2 separate regions of the Homo sapiens genome follow, and region 1 is linked to region 2. A link means that fine-mapping ties the variant in region 2 to the expression of a gene that starts in the linked region. Tissue or cell type: whole blood. Region 2 holds a variant in brackets; the other region holds the start of a gene. All regions are shown on one strand. Distances are between the middles of the regions.

What was found. PIP is the estimated chance that this variant, and not a neighbour inherited with it, causes the effect.
Region 1: KCNE5 starts here. The variant in region 2 is fine-mapped to the expression of KCNE5 in whole blood (TOPMed, PIP 0.97).

What each region holds. Positions count from the first base shown.
Region 1 is chrX:109,620,474-109,628,582 of GRCh38, forward strand. KCNE5 (potassium voltage-gated channel subfamily E regulatory subunit 5) reads right to left here and starts at 4,699. Exons shown (of 1, transcript NM_012282.4): 1 at 3,227-4,699. The coding sequence starts at 4,547. The coding sequence ends at 4,119.
Region 2 is chrX:109,020,404-109,028,512 of GRCh38, forward strand. No RefSeq gene overlaps it. Among named protein-coding and RNA genes, the nearest start is that of IRS4, 290 kb to the left of the region's middle. RefSeq lists an enhancer at 5,181-5,748. The variant A/T (reference allele first, on the strand shown) is at 4,580.

The DNA of each region.
Region 1 (8,109 bases), 600 kb after region 2:
CAAGTAAACGAGAGCAGAGTAGAATGGTGAGACAGTTATGCAGTTTCCTAGTCAGCCAAGATCCTGAGAATGGGGTAGATAAGCTTGAAAATCTGGGAGCCAGTGGCTAAGTATCAGCAATCCTCTTTTTTGAGCATTAACAGTAGAAACTACATAGTGGAAAATTTTCTCTTCCTCCCACTACTCCCACCCAAGTGCCAAGAGCACTCCTCCAAAGAAAGAAAAGGAAAGTATAAACTTAATACCTTCTATAGTTTCTACACTTCTCCTAGCCTTTTCTCATATATTATCTCACTTGATCCTCAAATCCCCACAGCTGTAGAGACTGGGGCCCTGAGAGGTTAAGCAGCTCATTCTGAGAAACAAAGCTGGTTAATTGGCAAAGCCTGAGCTGGACCCAAGTTCTCCTGATTTCTGGTCCTATGCTCTCTCCACATCATGGTATATTCGCTTTAGCTGGCAGGCAAGATTGTTTGGAAAGCAGCCCAGACCCCTTTTTTTGTTGCTGATGATACAAGTTATGTGCAGACCTTGGGTTTATAAAAGCAATGACAAATTGAAAAAGAGAAGATGGTAACTACAAACAAACAAAAGACCCCACTTATATCCTTCTAGAAAAGTAAAATTGACACACAGAATTGTGTCTGTAATAGAAGAAAAGCTTTCATTTCTTTTCGCACTGTCGATAAGTAATTCCAGACATTGAAACTCAAAACATCCCCTAGTTCCTCTGCAGAAAGCCTCAAGTTACAAGTCAGGAAGCAAAGGTCTTTTGCTTCTTTATTATTTTGGAGTGAAGATCTGAACCTGAGTTGAAACAGGATCTGGTTATGCAGAGAGGAGAAATAGACTGCTTGGTGGAGTGAAAAAAAGAATCATTCTATTAGAATGTTTAACATCTTTAAAATCACATTAAGGACAAAGCTAACATTTTCCCAACTTGTATAGTCAGCTATTGCTATTCAGGGATACATTATCAAAACTGGGGGTTGGCCAAGCACCTAGTTTTTCTTTCTTCTCCCTATGTTTTGCTGACCACAATATGATCACTTCAATGCTGTTAACACCTCCACTGTCTGGTAAAAGTTGAGTGTCCAGACTTCTGAAAAACTTCATTATCTGGGAGACAGTTGAAAGTCTGAGAGTATTTGAAAAAAGCCACTAGAAAGTAAATTAAATCACTCTTCCCAGCCCACCTCACTTTTCTGACCAGGAGGGTTCTATAGCTACTCTCGCTACATGTTCTTCATGGGTACCCTAAGTCATCATAAAAAGGTTAAAATGTTTTTAAAAGCAGGAACATTTTCCATGGGATTTGTTTTCCACAGCTGGCACATTAATGTGTATTATGAGCACTGTCCTAACTGCTCCCAGCTTCTTTTATTTTTGGCAATATATTCTTTTAAATGTCTATGGGAAAATGGTACAAATGTGTTTACAAAATTTCAACACCTGAAGCAGTGATTATGCTTCATTATCAAAATAACCTTGAGGCCGGGCGTGGTGGCTCACGCCTGTAATCCCAACATTTTGGGAGGCCAAGGTGCGCAGATCACTTGAGGTCAGGAGTTTGAGACCAGCCTGGCCAACATGATGAATCCCCGTCTCTACTAAAAAAAAAAAAAAAAAAAAATTAGCCAGCGTGGTGGCGCAGGCTTTAGCCCTGCTACTCGGGAGGCTGAGGCAAGAGGATCGCTTGAACCTGGGAGGCAGAGGTTGCAGTGAGCCAAGATCACGACACTGCACTCCAGCCTGGGTGACAGAGCAAGACTCCGTCTCAATTTAAAAAATTAATAATAATAACCTTGAGTCCCCATTATGCCAGATAAATGAGTGACATTGTTTTACTTAGAATACAGGACTGAAGACCGCCCCGTCACATGTCCTCAGCATTGCTGTATATTGTGCCCTTCCTCCACATCCTCCCCAGGCCTCCCTGCCTGGCTGAAATGGCTCACACAGCTTCCCTTCTCTTTCTGTCATCGTCTTGGACTGCTGCCCAATCCCTGGCCCTCACCTTCAGGGGTGACCTTATGGCTGGAACGAGGACTGGAGAAGAGCCAATGGGGCAAGGCCAGTATAGCTTCAATGAGTGAATCCTGGAAATAAAAGTAAGTTCACTTAACTTATTAACAGTTCCAATAAAATGCTAGATGGGCTGGAAGGTAAGACCCAATGCCTTGAATGAGGTTTGTGTGTTATCAATGCATTTAAGTGACTGGTAATATATTTGTCCTGCTATCATTATCAGAGAACCCAGCTATATTTAAGCAAATTGGCTTACTTCTAAGAGGTGATTTTATGTGTGGTTGATGAAGCCCAAACAGCCATCATCAGATATAAGCATTTCAGCTGTAAGCAGGGAAGTTTCTGACAACCTTCTTGAGACAAGGAGAATAAATCAATACAACACACACCTCTAACTTTACCCATCATTGGTTAAGATTGCTCAGTTCAAGAATTTTCTCTTTGACTTCAGATTTACACTATTTGGTGGCTTCCTTGTCTTTTAATAAGCCACTTCAAAAAAGTTATTGGCTAGGTGCAGTGGCTCACACCTGTAATCCCAGCACTTTGGGAGGCCGAGACAGGCGGATCACTTGAGGTCAGGAGTTTGAGAACCTCCTGGCCAACATGGTGAAACCCCCCGTCTCTACTAAAAATACAAAAATTAACTGGGCATGATGGGGCACATCTGTAATCCCAGCTACTCAGGAGGCTACTTGGGAGGCTGAGGCAGGAGAATCGCTTGAACCCAGGAGGCAGAGGCTTCAGTAAGCCTTGATTGTGCCACTGTACTCCAGCCTGGGTGACACAGTGAGACTCTGTCTCAAAAAAAGTAAAATAAAAACAATTATTAAGGTGGCTTCTAAAAATTAGGTTTGATAATAGCTAAAAGGGATGGGCCTTAAAGGTTTTTTAAAGTGCATCCTGAAAGACTGCATTGTGATCTTTGAAAGTGCTTCAGAAATAAGAAAAAAGGAGGGATAAGTAATAAAGTAGGTATAACTTTTGAAACACTTGAAAAAACAACCCATTTAGCCATATAAACATTTTCTTCACCCATAATCACACATATCAAATTGGAACTGGTTACATAGATATAAATATCACAACCACCCAACCCCCAAATCCAAACATCATTTCCAAAAGCAAAAGAAAAAGGATTCCTTCTCCATATGGTACTGGGTCTTAAGGCTGGAATCTCTGAGAGAAGAGTCTTGCGTTATTGTTTAAACAACCTTTATTACCTGCCTCTGACATTCCCCAGGGTTACAGAGCAGGGGGCATCTGAGCCTCAAGTTCCACGGATGAAGCAGACACTGCAATAACAACTGAATCAATAGAGGAGAGGCATTTGGAAGTACTGGGGTGATACACCCAGTAATGGTAATCCTCAGCAGAAGATGGCATAGCTACCAAAAATCAGGCGTTACCACTGGGATGAAAACTGGGGAGGCAAGAAAATCATACGGTTGGAGTCATAGATCATTTCCCTCCCCGTTGAGCACTCCTCCCCCTTCCGTCCCCCATTAAGTTCATTCTATCCCACAGACTGGTCCTAGTGTCCTGCTAGCTCCCTGCTGAAAGAGAGAGGGAGGGAAAAGATGTCTGAGGTCTCTTCATTTCCTTTGTCTCTGTCCCTAAGGCAACTGGAAGCTGGAGCTGCTGCAGTCGGCCTGGCAAGCCCGTTGGCTCTGCAGAGTGAGCAGTCCCTGGCAGCCCCTGGAGCAGCTGCCAGTTAGACGGCCCAGAGTTCTGATAGAATGCATTGCTTCAGTTCAGTGCCAAGTGTTGGACGTGTTGGATTCAGTTCCCAGAGGGCTGGAGCGTGCTGTCAGGGCTGTCTGAAGACAAGAGAGCAGAGGCAGTTTAGTGCAGTTGGATGTGCGGGGTAGGGGTGGAGGCGCAGGGGTGAAGAGGGAGAAACTGGCCCGAATGGGTAAGGTGGTGCTTCTCCTTCCAGGGCCTTCCAGACAAGGTCTCCTGGCCTCTCACCATTATCTGGGCCTCAGATGAGGCGAACCCTGGAAGGGAGTTGGGGGTGGAAGGTGGGAGGCGCGCCCAGGGATGAGCGAGATGAGGAGGGCGCGAACCAGCAATCTGGGGCTGTGGTTTTAGACCCGCTCAGCGCCCTGGGCGAGGGCAGGCAGCCCCTCGGAGGCAAGCTGGCGGCGGCCCTCGGCCTGGGAGCCCGCGGCAGCCTCGGCGTCGGCGGTCAGGGCGCCTCCCGGGGCCCATTCGTGCTCGGCGCAAGCCTGGGACGGCTCGTCCTTGGCCTCGACGAGCTTACGGGAGCGGGTGTAGGCCAGGATGAGGCCTCCGGCCAAGCAGGCGTAGAAGATCATGATGAGCAGGATGTAGAGATAGGCGTCGTCGCCCTTGGCGCTGGTCACCTCGCGGCCCACGAAAGGGTCAGGCACGACCCCCATGCCCATGCTGGGACGAGGGCCAGCGCCCAAGCCGCTGGCATTACCCCGGTGGTGCAGCTCGAGCAACAGGCGGCTCAGAAGGGTTCGCAGCCGCTGGCTCTCGCTGCAGTTCATGGCTTTCGGGGAGTGACACGGCGGCTCCAGGACGCTGCTGACCTTTCCCCCTGGGCGAGGGGAAGCGAGCTAGCGAGCGGGCCGGCCGGCGGGCAGGGCTCAGCAGCGGAAACAGCGGTAGCACCCAGCTCTCCGGCGAGCGCGCAGTGGCTGGGGGCGCCGACGGCGGGGCCTCCTTATTCCCTCACTCCCGCCCCTCCTCCCCTTCCCCACCACGCCCCCTCCGGCCCGCGGCCGCCTCTTCCCAGGCTCTGGCTGTCTCGCTGCTCCAGGGAAAGGGGACAGCTGGTGGGGGGAGGAGAAGGGGACAAGAGTGGGGGCGAGGCTGGGAGACGGGCGGAGGGGGCGGGGGCTCGGAATGCGCGAGGCCCCAGGCAGCAGACGCTGGCAGGGCAGCTTGCTGGGGCCAAGCCTGGACCCTGGGCTGCGGAAGAGAATTCCTTCCAAGTTCTGGCCACCTGCCCTGCAGGCCAGGCTTTGGCCCAGATACAGCATTTGGCCCCCTAAGGCAGCTCTGCCTTGGGGCGCTCAAGGGAGAGGGCAGACGCCTTTCCGCAGCAGAGACCCCTTGTCCACATTTTATGGAAGTTACTCCCATATACAGGGACCCAGGCCTATCTTTCTAGTCCTCATTCCTTTCCTTTTCCCCCCGCCCCCCTTTTCACCCCCCTCCCACCTTGTCGGAGGAGAGCATCTTATTCAGAAGATGCTCAGGCTGAATTTGGTGACTGAGTGCTCAGGCACCTGCTAGAAGGCCAAGGCAGAGTAGAACTCCCTGGTTATCCAAAATGGTTTCTGGTGATATAAGTGATATTACACCTTCTTGGAAGCACCCCTGCTCTGATGTCCTATGACACTTTTTGAAAAGTCAACACATCTTAGCACATGAATGTACTATTCATAATGGGAGCCTGTTTCCCATGGGTAAGTAAGCCATCTTCCCAGAAGTGAAACCAAGTTCTTCCAATAAGAGTAGCATGCACATTTTAAAAGGCCCTTTGACTACACTCTGTGGATATCTCGGGATCTGAAAAGTGCCAGTTCTAGAGAATATGCTCACCCTACTCCCAGTTAGGCCAGCAAACAGCTGTGTGCCTCTCTAGACTTGGTAACAGGTCTAGGCCCTAATGGCTTTTAGGGCAGCCATTTTTTTCTCAAAGGCTGTCTTTTTTTAGGGGAAAACAAGGCACCAAGACAAAGATCAGGCCAGATATGTTAAATTGGAAACAGACTGAGCTTCACAAAGGAAAAGGGTTGGTTTGTAGATGGTGGGGTAGAAAAAATGAGGTAGTGCTGGCTAGGTCTGGTTGTCCATAGTTGCCAAATGAGAGCAGAAAGCAAGAAAAGTGTATGACCTTAGGCACACCTTGAAAATAATGCTGCCTGTTCAAGACCGTTCAGTCCAGGGACCATTCAATCTATAGGTGCCATGGGTTAAAAAAGGAAGGTTTTCCGATGCCTCTTCCCCAACCGTTCTTCAGCCCACCATCCACCCAGGGGCTGTAGCCTTCTGTGTGTTCAGGTGAGGTTGGCACCAAACTGTATCCAGGGTCTCAAACAGAGCCTTGCTTCACAGCCTCTAAACAGGCCTCAGAGACATTCCACATGACCCTGACACTGGCTCCCTTCTAATCACCTTGCCTCAATATTCTCACCTCAGAGGGCCTCAGGAAAGAATTGTTAAAGCAACTTGGCAGGATGAATGCCAGAGGACACAGCCAGAGAATTTTCAAAGCACTGCTAACCTAGTGATATGACTGTTGAGCTAAAAAGACTTCTCTTATCTGTTAAAACAGGAGTCCCCAACCTCCCAGGCTGCTGGACCTTGGCCTGTTAGGAACCAGCCGCACAGAAAGAGGTGAGCAGAGGGCAAGTGAGCATTATCGCCTGAGCTACACCTCCTGTCAGATCAGCAGTGGCATTAGAGTCTCAGAAGAGCTCAAACCGTATTGTGAACTGCGCATGCCATGGATCTACAATTGCATGCTCTTTATGAGAATCTAATGCCTGATGATCTGAAGTGAAACAGTTTCATCCTGAAACTATCCACCCCTCCCCAGTGTCCATGAAAAAAATTGTCTTCCACAAAACCAGTCTCTGGTGCCAAAAAGGTTGAGGACTGCTGTGTTAACATATACCTAGAAATAGCTAGGGTTTTTTTTTTTTTTTTTGAGAGGAAAGGAGGAAGAAACCCCTTTACTGTAACATACAAATAATCATTTAAACTTGTTTTCTAATTTCAACAGCCTTATGAGCTAATAGGATTCTCATTTTCCAAAGAGGAAACTGAGGTTCAGACTGGTTAAGTAGCAGGACTGGAATTATAAAGTTTGACCTTCTTCTTCTCAGTCCTCACACATTACTTGTGTCAAATGGGTGGTATTCATGAGCTACCTCCATTTTCCCACCTCTCCCTCCTCTTGAACCTTCTAGAGTCCAGTGCTTTCTGCCAAAACTACTTTCTATAAGTCAGTTCACCAGTGACCTCCGGGTCAAATTCAGGGGTCTCTGCTCCCTTTGCATCTTTGACCTCGAGGATGAATTTGAAACCATCAACCACCCACTCCTTCCTGTAACTGTCCTACCCTTGGCTCTTGTGGCATTGCATTCTCAAATTTCTCTTCTTATCTCTCTGACCCACCATTCTCTGCCTCCTTTGCTGGCTCCCCTTCTTTCCTCCTCCCATTAACTGTTGGAATCCCCAAAGACTCAGTCCTCAGCTATTCTCTCTCAACACCCATTTCCTTGAAGAGTGTCTCTTACATGGTTTCACCTACCACTTGGCATATATTTAGCCAAATTTGAATCTCTAGCTCTGATTCTTGGTAGCATGTCTCAGATCCCTCTGCTCCTTCCTTTCTGGTTTTATTGCCACAAGCTTAATCCATGTTCTCATTACCTCAGGTCAAATATGCAAACAGAGAATCTCCTGGCTTACAGCTGAATCTATCATGTTATGGTTAGAATAATTCTCCAACACCACTTCTATCAATTCAGCCCTATGTTCAGAAACCCAGGAGTTGTTACTCATTGATTCTTTAACAGAGTTTAGTCTTCTGTGGTGGAACTTAAGTTCTCACCACCAATAGACACCATCTTCTCCCCTTTGAATTTGAAAAACAGCATCTTCCTGGAGTTCCTCTGCAATACTCTGTGCATTTTGCCTTCCTCAAAATTCGTTGACTGAAAGAAGCCTTGCTCTATGCCCCTGTTTGTGCTTTCAGATTCTTCACAATGCACCCTTCTGAGCTTTACTTTGCAGCATTCAATGCAGAAATCTTGGAAAACACAAAAAAGCAACAAGGAAAATTTTGGAAATCTTGGAAAACACAAAAAAGCGACAAGAGAAAAGAACGAAAAATTATCAATGGTGCATACTCATGACTCTCTCTCTCAAATCTCTCTCTCTCTCTCTCTCTCATGTTTCATGGCCTTTTTCCCTTAAAAACATACTGTAAATTTTTCCATGTCATTTACTATTTCTCCATAGCGTTATTTTTTGTTGTTGTTTTTGTTTTTTTTAGAGTAGATCACTTACAAATTTTATTTTTTAAAGAACATC
Region 2 (8,109 bases):
TCCTGAATGGTATTGCCTAGGTTTTCTTCTAGGGTTTTTATGGTGTTAGGTCTTATATTTAAGTCTTTAATCCATCTTGAGTTAATTTTTGTATAAGGTGTAAGGAAGGGATCCAGTTTCAGCTTTCTACATATGGCTAGCCAGTTTTCCCAGCACCATTTATTAAATAGGAAATCCTTTCCCCATTACTTGTTTTTGTCAGGTTTGTCAAAGATCAGATGGTTGTAGATGTGTGGTGTTATTTCTGAGGCCTCTGTTCTGTTCCATTGGTCAATCTCTGTTTTGGTACCAGTACCATGCTGTTTTGGTTACTGTAGCCTTATAGTATAGTTTGAGGTCAGGTAGCTTGATGCATACAGCTTTGTTCTTTTTGCCTAGGATTGTCTTGGCTATGTGGGCTCTTTTTTGGTTCCAAGGGAACTTTAAAGGAGTTTTTTCCAATTCTGTGAAAAAGGTCAGTGGCAGCTTGATGGGGATAACATTGAATGTATAAATTACCTTGGGCAGTATGGGCATTTTTGTGATATTGAGTCTTCCTATCCATGAGCATGGAATGTTCTTCCATTTGTTTGTGTCCTGTTTTATTTCATTGAGCAGTGGTTTGTAGTTCTCCTTGAAGAGGTCCTTGACATCCCTTTTAAGTTGGATTCCTAGGTATTTTATTCTCTTTGAAGCAATTGTGAATGGGAGTTCACTCATGATTTGGCTCTCTGTCCCTTATTGGTGTATAGGAATGCTTGTGATTTTTGCACATTGATTTTGTATGCTGAGAGTTTGCTGAAGTTGCTTATCAGCTTAAGGAGACTTTGGGCTGAGATGATGGGGTTTTCTAAATATACAATCATTTCAACTGAAAACAGAAACAACTTGACTTACTCTTTTCCTAATTGAATACCCGTTATTTCTTCCTCTTGCCTGATTGCCCTGGCCAGAACTTCCAACACTATGTTGAATAGGAGTGGTGAGAGAGGGCATCCTTGTCTTGTGCTGGTTTTCAAAGGGAATGCTTCCAGGTTTTGCCCATTCAGTATGATATTGGCTGTGGGTTTGTCATAAATAGCTCTTATTATTTTGATATATGCTCCATGAACACCTAGTTTATTGAGAATTTTTAGCATGAAGTGCTGTTGAATTTTTTTGAAGGCCTTTTCTGCATCTATTGATATAATCATGTGGTTTTTATCTTTGGTTCTGTTTATATGATGGATTATGTTTATTGGTTTGCATAGGTTGAACCAGTCTTGCATCCCAGGGATGAAACTGACTTGATCATGGTGGATAAGCTTTTTGATGTGCTGCTGGATTCGATTTGCCAGTATTTTATCGAGGACTTTCGCATCGATGTTCATCACGGATATTGGCCTAAAATTCTCTTTTTGTTGTGTCTCTACCAGGCTCTGGTATCAGGATGATGCTAGCCTCATAAAATGAATTAGGGAGGAGTCTCTCTTTTTCTATTTATTGAAATAGTTTCAGAAGGAATGGTACCAGCTCCTCTTTGTACCTCTGGTAGAATTTGGCTGTGAATTCCTCTGGTCCTGGACTTTTTTTGTTGGTAGGCTATCAATTTTTGCCTTAACTTCAGATCGTGTTATTGGTCTATTCTGAGATTCAACTTCTTCCTGGTTTAGTCTTGGGAGGGTGTATGTGTCCAGGAATTTATCCATTTCTTCTAGATTTTCTAGTTTATTTGCATAGAGGTGTTTATAGTATTCTCTGATGGTAGTTTGTATTTCTGTGGGATCGGTGGTGATATCCCCTTTATCATTTTTTATTGTGTTTATTTGATTCTTCTCTCTTTTCTTCTTTATTAGTCTTGCTAGTGGTCTATTTCGTTGATCTTCTCAAAAAACCAGGTCCTGGATTCACTGATCATTTTGAAAGTTTTTTCGTGTCTCTATCTCCTTGAGTTCTGCTCTGATCTTAGTTATTTCTTGCCTTCTGCTAGTTTTTGAATTTGTTTGCTCTTGCTTCTCTAGTTCTTTTAATTGTGATGTTAGGGTGTCGATTTTAGATATTTTCTGCTTTCTCTTGTGGGCATTTAGTGCTATACATTTCCCTCTACACATTGCTTTAAATGTGTCCCAGAGATTCTGGTACTTTCTGTCTTTCTTCTCATTGGTTTCAAGGAACGTCTTTATTTCTGCCTTTATTTCGTTATTTACCCAGTAGTCATTCAGGAGCACGTTGTTCAGTTTTCATGTACTTGTGCAGTTTTGAGTGAGTTTCCTCATCCCGAGTTCTAATTTGATTGCACTGTGGTCTGAGAGAGAGTTTGTTGTGATTTCTGTTCTTTTACATTTGCTGAGGAGTGTTTTACTACTAATCATGTGGTCAATTTTAGAATAAGTTCGATGTGGTGCTGAGAAGAATTTATATTCTGTTGATTTGGGGTGGAGAGTTCTGTAGATGTCTATTAGTTCTGCTTGGTCCACAGCTGAGTTCAAGTCCTGGATATTGTTGTTAATTTTCGGTCTCATTGATCTGTCTAATATTGACGTTGTGGTGTTAAAGTCTCCCATTATTATTGTGTGGGAGTCTAAGTATCTTTGTCGGTCTCTAAGAACTTGTTTTATGAATCTGGGTTCTCCTGAATTAGGTGCGTATATATTTAGGATAGTTAGCTCTTCTTGTTGAATTGATCCCTTTACCATTATGTAGAGGCCTTCTTTGTCTCTTTTGATCTTTGCTGGTTTAAAGTCTGTTTTATCAGAGACTAGGATTGCAACACCCCCTCCCTCTTTTTTTTGCTTTCCATTTCCTTGGTAAATATTCTGCCATCTCTTTATTTTGAGCCTATGTATGTCTTTGCATGTGAGATGGGTCTCCTGAATACAGAACACCTGTGGGTCTTGACTCTTTATCTTATTTGCCAGTCTGTGTCTTTTAATTGGGGGCATTTAGTCCATTTCCATTTAAGGTTAATATTGTTGTGTTTGAATTTGATCCTGTCATTTTGATTTTAGCTGGTTATTTTGCGCATTAGTTGATGCAGTTTCTTCATAGCATCGATGGTCGTTACCACTTGGCATGTTTTTGCAGTGGCTGGTACCAGTTGTTTGTTCCTTTCCATGTTTAGTGCTTCCGTCAGGAGCTCCGGTAATGCAGGCCTGGTGGTGGCAAAATCTCTCAGCATTTGCTTGTCTGTAAAGGATTTTATTTCTCCTTCACTTATAAAGCTTTGTTTGGCTGGATATGAGATTCTGGGATGAAAATTCTTCTCTTGAAAAATGTTGAATATCAGCCTCCACTCTCTTCTGGCTTGTAGGGTTTCTGCCAAGAGATCCGCTGTTAGTCTGATGGGCTTCCCTTTGTGGGTAACCCAACCTTTCTCTCTGGGTGCCCTTAACATTTTTCCTTCATTTCAACCTTGTTGAATCTGACAATTATGTGTCTTGAGGTTGCTCTTCTTGAGGAGTATCTTTGTGGTGTTCTCTGTATTTCCTGAATTTGAATGTTGGCCTCCCTTGCTAGGTTAGGGAAGTTCTCCTGGATAATATCCTGAGAAGTGTTTTCTAACTTGGTTCCATTCTCCCCATCACTTTCAGATACACAAATCAAATGGATATTTGGTCTTTTCCCATAGTCCCATATCTTTTGGAGGCTTTGTTCATTACTTTTCACTCTTTTTTCTCTACTCCTGTCTTCTCACTTTATTTCATTAATTTTATTTTCAATCACCGATATCCTTTCTTCCACTTGATCGAATCAGCTATTGAAGCTTGTGCATGCATCATGAAGTTCTCATGCCGTGGTTTTCAGCTCCATCAGGTCATTTAAGGTCTTCTCTACACTGTTTATTCTAGTTAGCCATTCATCTAACCTTTTTTCAAGGTTTTTAGCTTGCTTGCAATGGGTTAGAACATGCTCCTTTAGCTTGGAGAAGTTTGTTATTACCGACCTTCTGAAGCCTACTTCTGTCAACTCATCAAACTCGTTCTCTGTCCAGTTTTGTTCCCTTACTGGTGAGGAGCTGCAATCCTTTGGAGGAGAAGAGGTGCTCTGTTTTTTGGAATTTCCAGCTTTTCTGCTCTTGTTTCTCCCCATCTTTGTAGTTTTATCTACCTTTGGTCTTTGATGTTGATGGCCTACAGATGGGGTTTTGGTGTGGATGTCCTTTTTGTTGATGTTGATGCTATTCCTTTCTGTTTGTTACTTTTCCTTCTAAGAGTCAGACCTTTCAGCTGCAGGTCTGTTGGAGTTTGCTGGAGGTCCACTCCAGACCCTGTTTGCCGGGCTATCACTTGTGGAGGTTGCAGAACAGCAAATATTGCTGCCTGATCCTTCCTCTGTCAGCTTAATCCCAGAGGGGCACCTGCCTGTTTGAGATGTCTGTCAGCCCCTACTGGAGGTGTTTCCCAGTCAGGCCACATGGAGGTCAGGGACCCTCTTGAGCAGGCAGTCTGTCCATTCTCGGAGCTCATATGCCACACTAAGAGAACCAGTGCTCTCCTCAAAGCTGTGAGACAGGGACATTTAAGTCTGCAGAAGCTATTTGCTACCTTTTGTTCTACTATGCCCTGACCCTAGAGATGGAATCTATAGAGGCAGTAGGCCTTGCTGAGCTGCAATGGGCTCC[A/T]TCCAATTCATGCTTCCTGGCCTCTTTGTTGACACTGTGAGCTACTCAAGCCTCAGCAATGGTGGGTGTTCCTCCCCCAGTCAAGCTGCAGAGTTGCAGGTCAATCTCAGACTGCTGCGCTAGCAGTGAGCAAGGCTTTGTGGGCATGGGACCCACTGAGCCAGGCACGGGAGGGTACGTTCTGGTCTGCCAGTTGCTAAGACTGTGGGAAAAGTGCAGTATTTGGTCAGGAGTGTACTGATTCTCTAGGTACAGTCCGTCACAGCTTCCCTTGGCTAGGAAAGGGTAATCCCCTGACCCCTTGCATTTCCCAGGTGAGGCGATGCCTTACCCTGCTTCGGCTCAACCTCCATGGGCTGCACCCACTGTCCAACCAGTCCCAATGAGATGAACCAGGTACCTCAGATGGAAATGCAGAAATCACCCATCTTCTGCATCAGTCTCGGTGGGAGCTGCAGACCAGAGCTGTTCCTATTTGGCCATCTTGACTTTCATTTCAAAATAAGGTTTCTTATGAGTAAAGGTTTTGTGCTAAGGCTTTATTAGGAAGTGATATCCCAAGGCAGCAAGAGCAAGAAATAAAAGGAAAGCAAAAGAGAGAAGAAGAGAGTAGGAAAGAAGAAAAGATTGTTTGCTAGCCTTTTTCAACATCTTATTTTTTATTGATATATGTTTGTCCTTGGTGGTATTAATCCCTTTGTTTCCTGTACAAAGGTTTCCAAGTTTTGTCATCTGGACTATCCAGCAGCTACTGGGGATGCCAGGTCCCATACCTCATTGTGTTACAATTTATCTGAATCTGAAACTGGTGGCAGAAGCCAGAGACTCCATAGATCCAGCTGGATGAGGCCTGGGAATTGAAGCCACTGCAGTTCCTGGCTCAGCAGGTGCAATGGAGATTGTGTCATGCAAACAGGTTCTCCAGTGAGCAAACAGTTAAATGCCCAGCAGGCAGCTAAAAGCAAGGTACATTTAATGAAATGCATAATTAAGGCCTTATACATATTCCATCATATGATAAGATTATATTTGTTTATACATCCTTCCACTGATGGACATTTATGTTGCTTCCATTTGTTTACCATTGCAGAATATGCTGAAAAATAAACATTTATGTAAAATGTAGAATAAGCAAATCACCAGAGACAGAAAGTGGATTAGTTTGTCTAGAGCTGGGGGTGTGTACTGGAAATTATAGAGCTTATGAATAAATCATGCAGTGTTTCTTTTTGGGGTGAAAAAATATTCTAAAATTGATTTTAACAATAGTTACACAACTCTGAGAATATACTAACAGCCATCATATTGTACATTTTAAGTGGGTGAATTATATGGTATGTGAATTATATCACATTTTAAAATGATTATTAATTATCATTCTTATTTGAATCTTCCTGATTATTAGTGACATTAAACATCTTTTTGTACATGTATGGAGAATCGTACTTCTTCTGTGAGTAGCTTGTTCTTGCTCTTGACCGTTTATCATAATAATTATTATTATTCTCTATTTGGAGGAGTTAAAAGAAATATACTCTCTGGGACAACTGGATACCCACATGCAAAAGAAAAAAGTTGTACCTTTATCTCATAACATATAGAAAAGAACTGAGAATATACTAAAGATCTAAATGGAAGAGCAAAAAATATACAATTCTTAGGAAAAAACATAGGGGTAAATCTTTAAATGATTGGCAATGGTTTTGTAGATATAACATCGAAAGTACAAACAACAAATAGAGAATCCAGAAATAAATCCATACATCTGTAGTGAACTCATTTTTTACAAAGGTGCCAAGAACATACATTGAGGAAAAGACAGTTTCTTCAACAAATGGTGCTGTGAACACTGGATATTCCTATGAAGAAGAATGAAGCTTGATTCTTATCTCTCATCATATAGAAAAACAAAGTCAAAATTGATTAAGACTTAAATCTAAGACATGAAACTACGAGAAGAAATCCTTGGGGGAACTGTCCAGGACATTAGTCTGGGCAAAGATTTATTGAGTAATGCCCTACAAGCATAGGCAACAAAAGAAAAAAAATGTACAAATGGCATCACATCACATTAAAAAGCTTCTGCACAACAAAAGAAAAAAATCAACAAAATGAAGAGACAATTTGAATATATAAGTTTTAGCTCCTTATATATTCTGATTATTAATCCCTTGTCAAATCAATAGTTTATGATCATTTTCTCCCAAATGGGAGAAAAAAATCTAATAATACAATTTAAAAATAGGCAAATATTTTTCAAAAGAAGATGTCCAAATGGCAAACAGGTATACAAAAAGTTGCTCAACATCATTGATCATCAGACAAATGCAAATCAAAACTACAATGAGATATCATCTCACCCCAGTTAAAATGGCTTATTTCCAAAAGACAGGCAATAACAAATGCTGGCAAAGATGTGGAGAAAGGGAAAACCTCATATACTATTGTGGGTACATAAATCAGTACAACCACTGGGGAGAACAGTATGAAGGTTTTTCAAAAAACTAAAATTAGAATGATCATATGATTCAGCAATACCACTGTTAGGTATATACCCAAAAGAAAGAAAATCAATGTATCAAAGACATGTGTATCCCCGTGTTTATTCCAGCACTATTCACAATAGCCAAGATTTGGAATCAGCCTAAGTATCCATCAACAGACAAAAGAATAAAGAAAATATGGTACATATATACAATGGAGTACTATTAAGCCATAAAAAAGAATGAGATCCTGCCATTTGTAATAGGATGCACAGAACTAAAGGAAATTATGTTGACAGAAATAAGTGAGGCACAGAAAGACAAACTTAGCATGTTCTCACCCATTTTGGAAAGCTAAAAATTAAAACAATTGAACTCATGGAGATAGAGAGTAGAATGATGGTTACCAAAGGCTAAGAAGGATAGTAGGGAGGCAAGTGGGGACTGTTAATGGGTACAAAAATATACTTAGAGGGAATTAATAAAATCTAATATTTGATAGCACAACAGATGACTATAATTAACAATTTGTTGTACATTTTAAAATAACTAAAAGAGTACAATTAGAATGTTTGTAACACAAAGAAAGGATAAATTCTTGCAGTGATTGATACCCCATTTACCACAATGTGATGATTACATATTGAATGCTTGTATCAAAATATCTCATGTACTCCATAATTATATACAGCTACTTTGTACCCATACATTTTTAAAGTATAAGCAAAATAAAAAATAGACAAATTGGACTTTATTTAAATTAAAAATATTTGTGAATCAAAGGACACTATCAGGAAAGTGAAAACAACATGCAAAATTAGATAAAGTATTTGTAAATCATATATCTGATAAAAGTATAATATTTAGAATATGAAAAGAACTCTCATAACTCAATAGCAAAAAGATAAATGACCCAATTAAAAAATAGGCAAAGGGTTTGAATAGATGTTTCTCCAAAGAAGATACGCAAATGGCCAACAAGCACATGAAAAGGTGCTCAATATCTTTAATCATTAAGGAAATGTAAACCAAAATCACCACAAGATA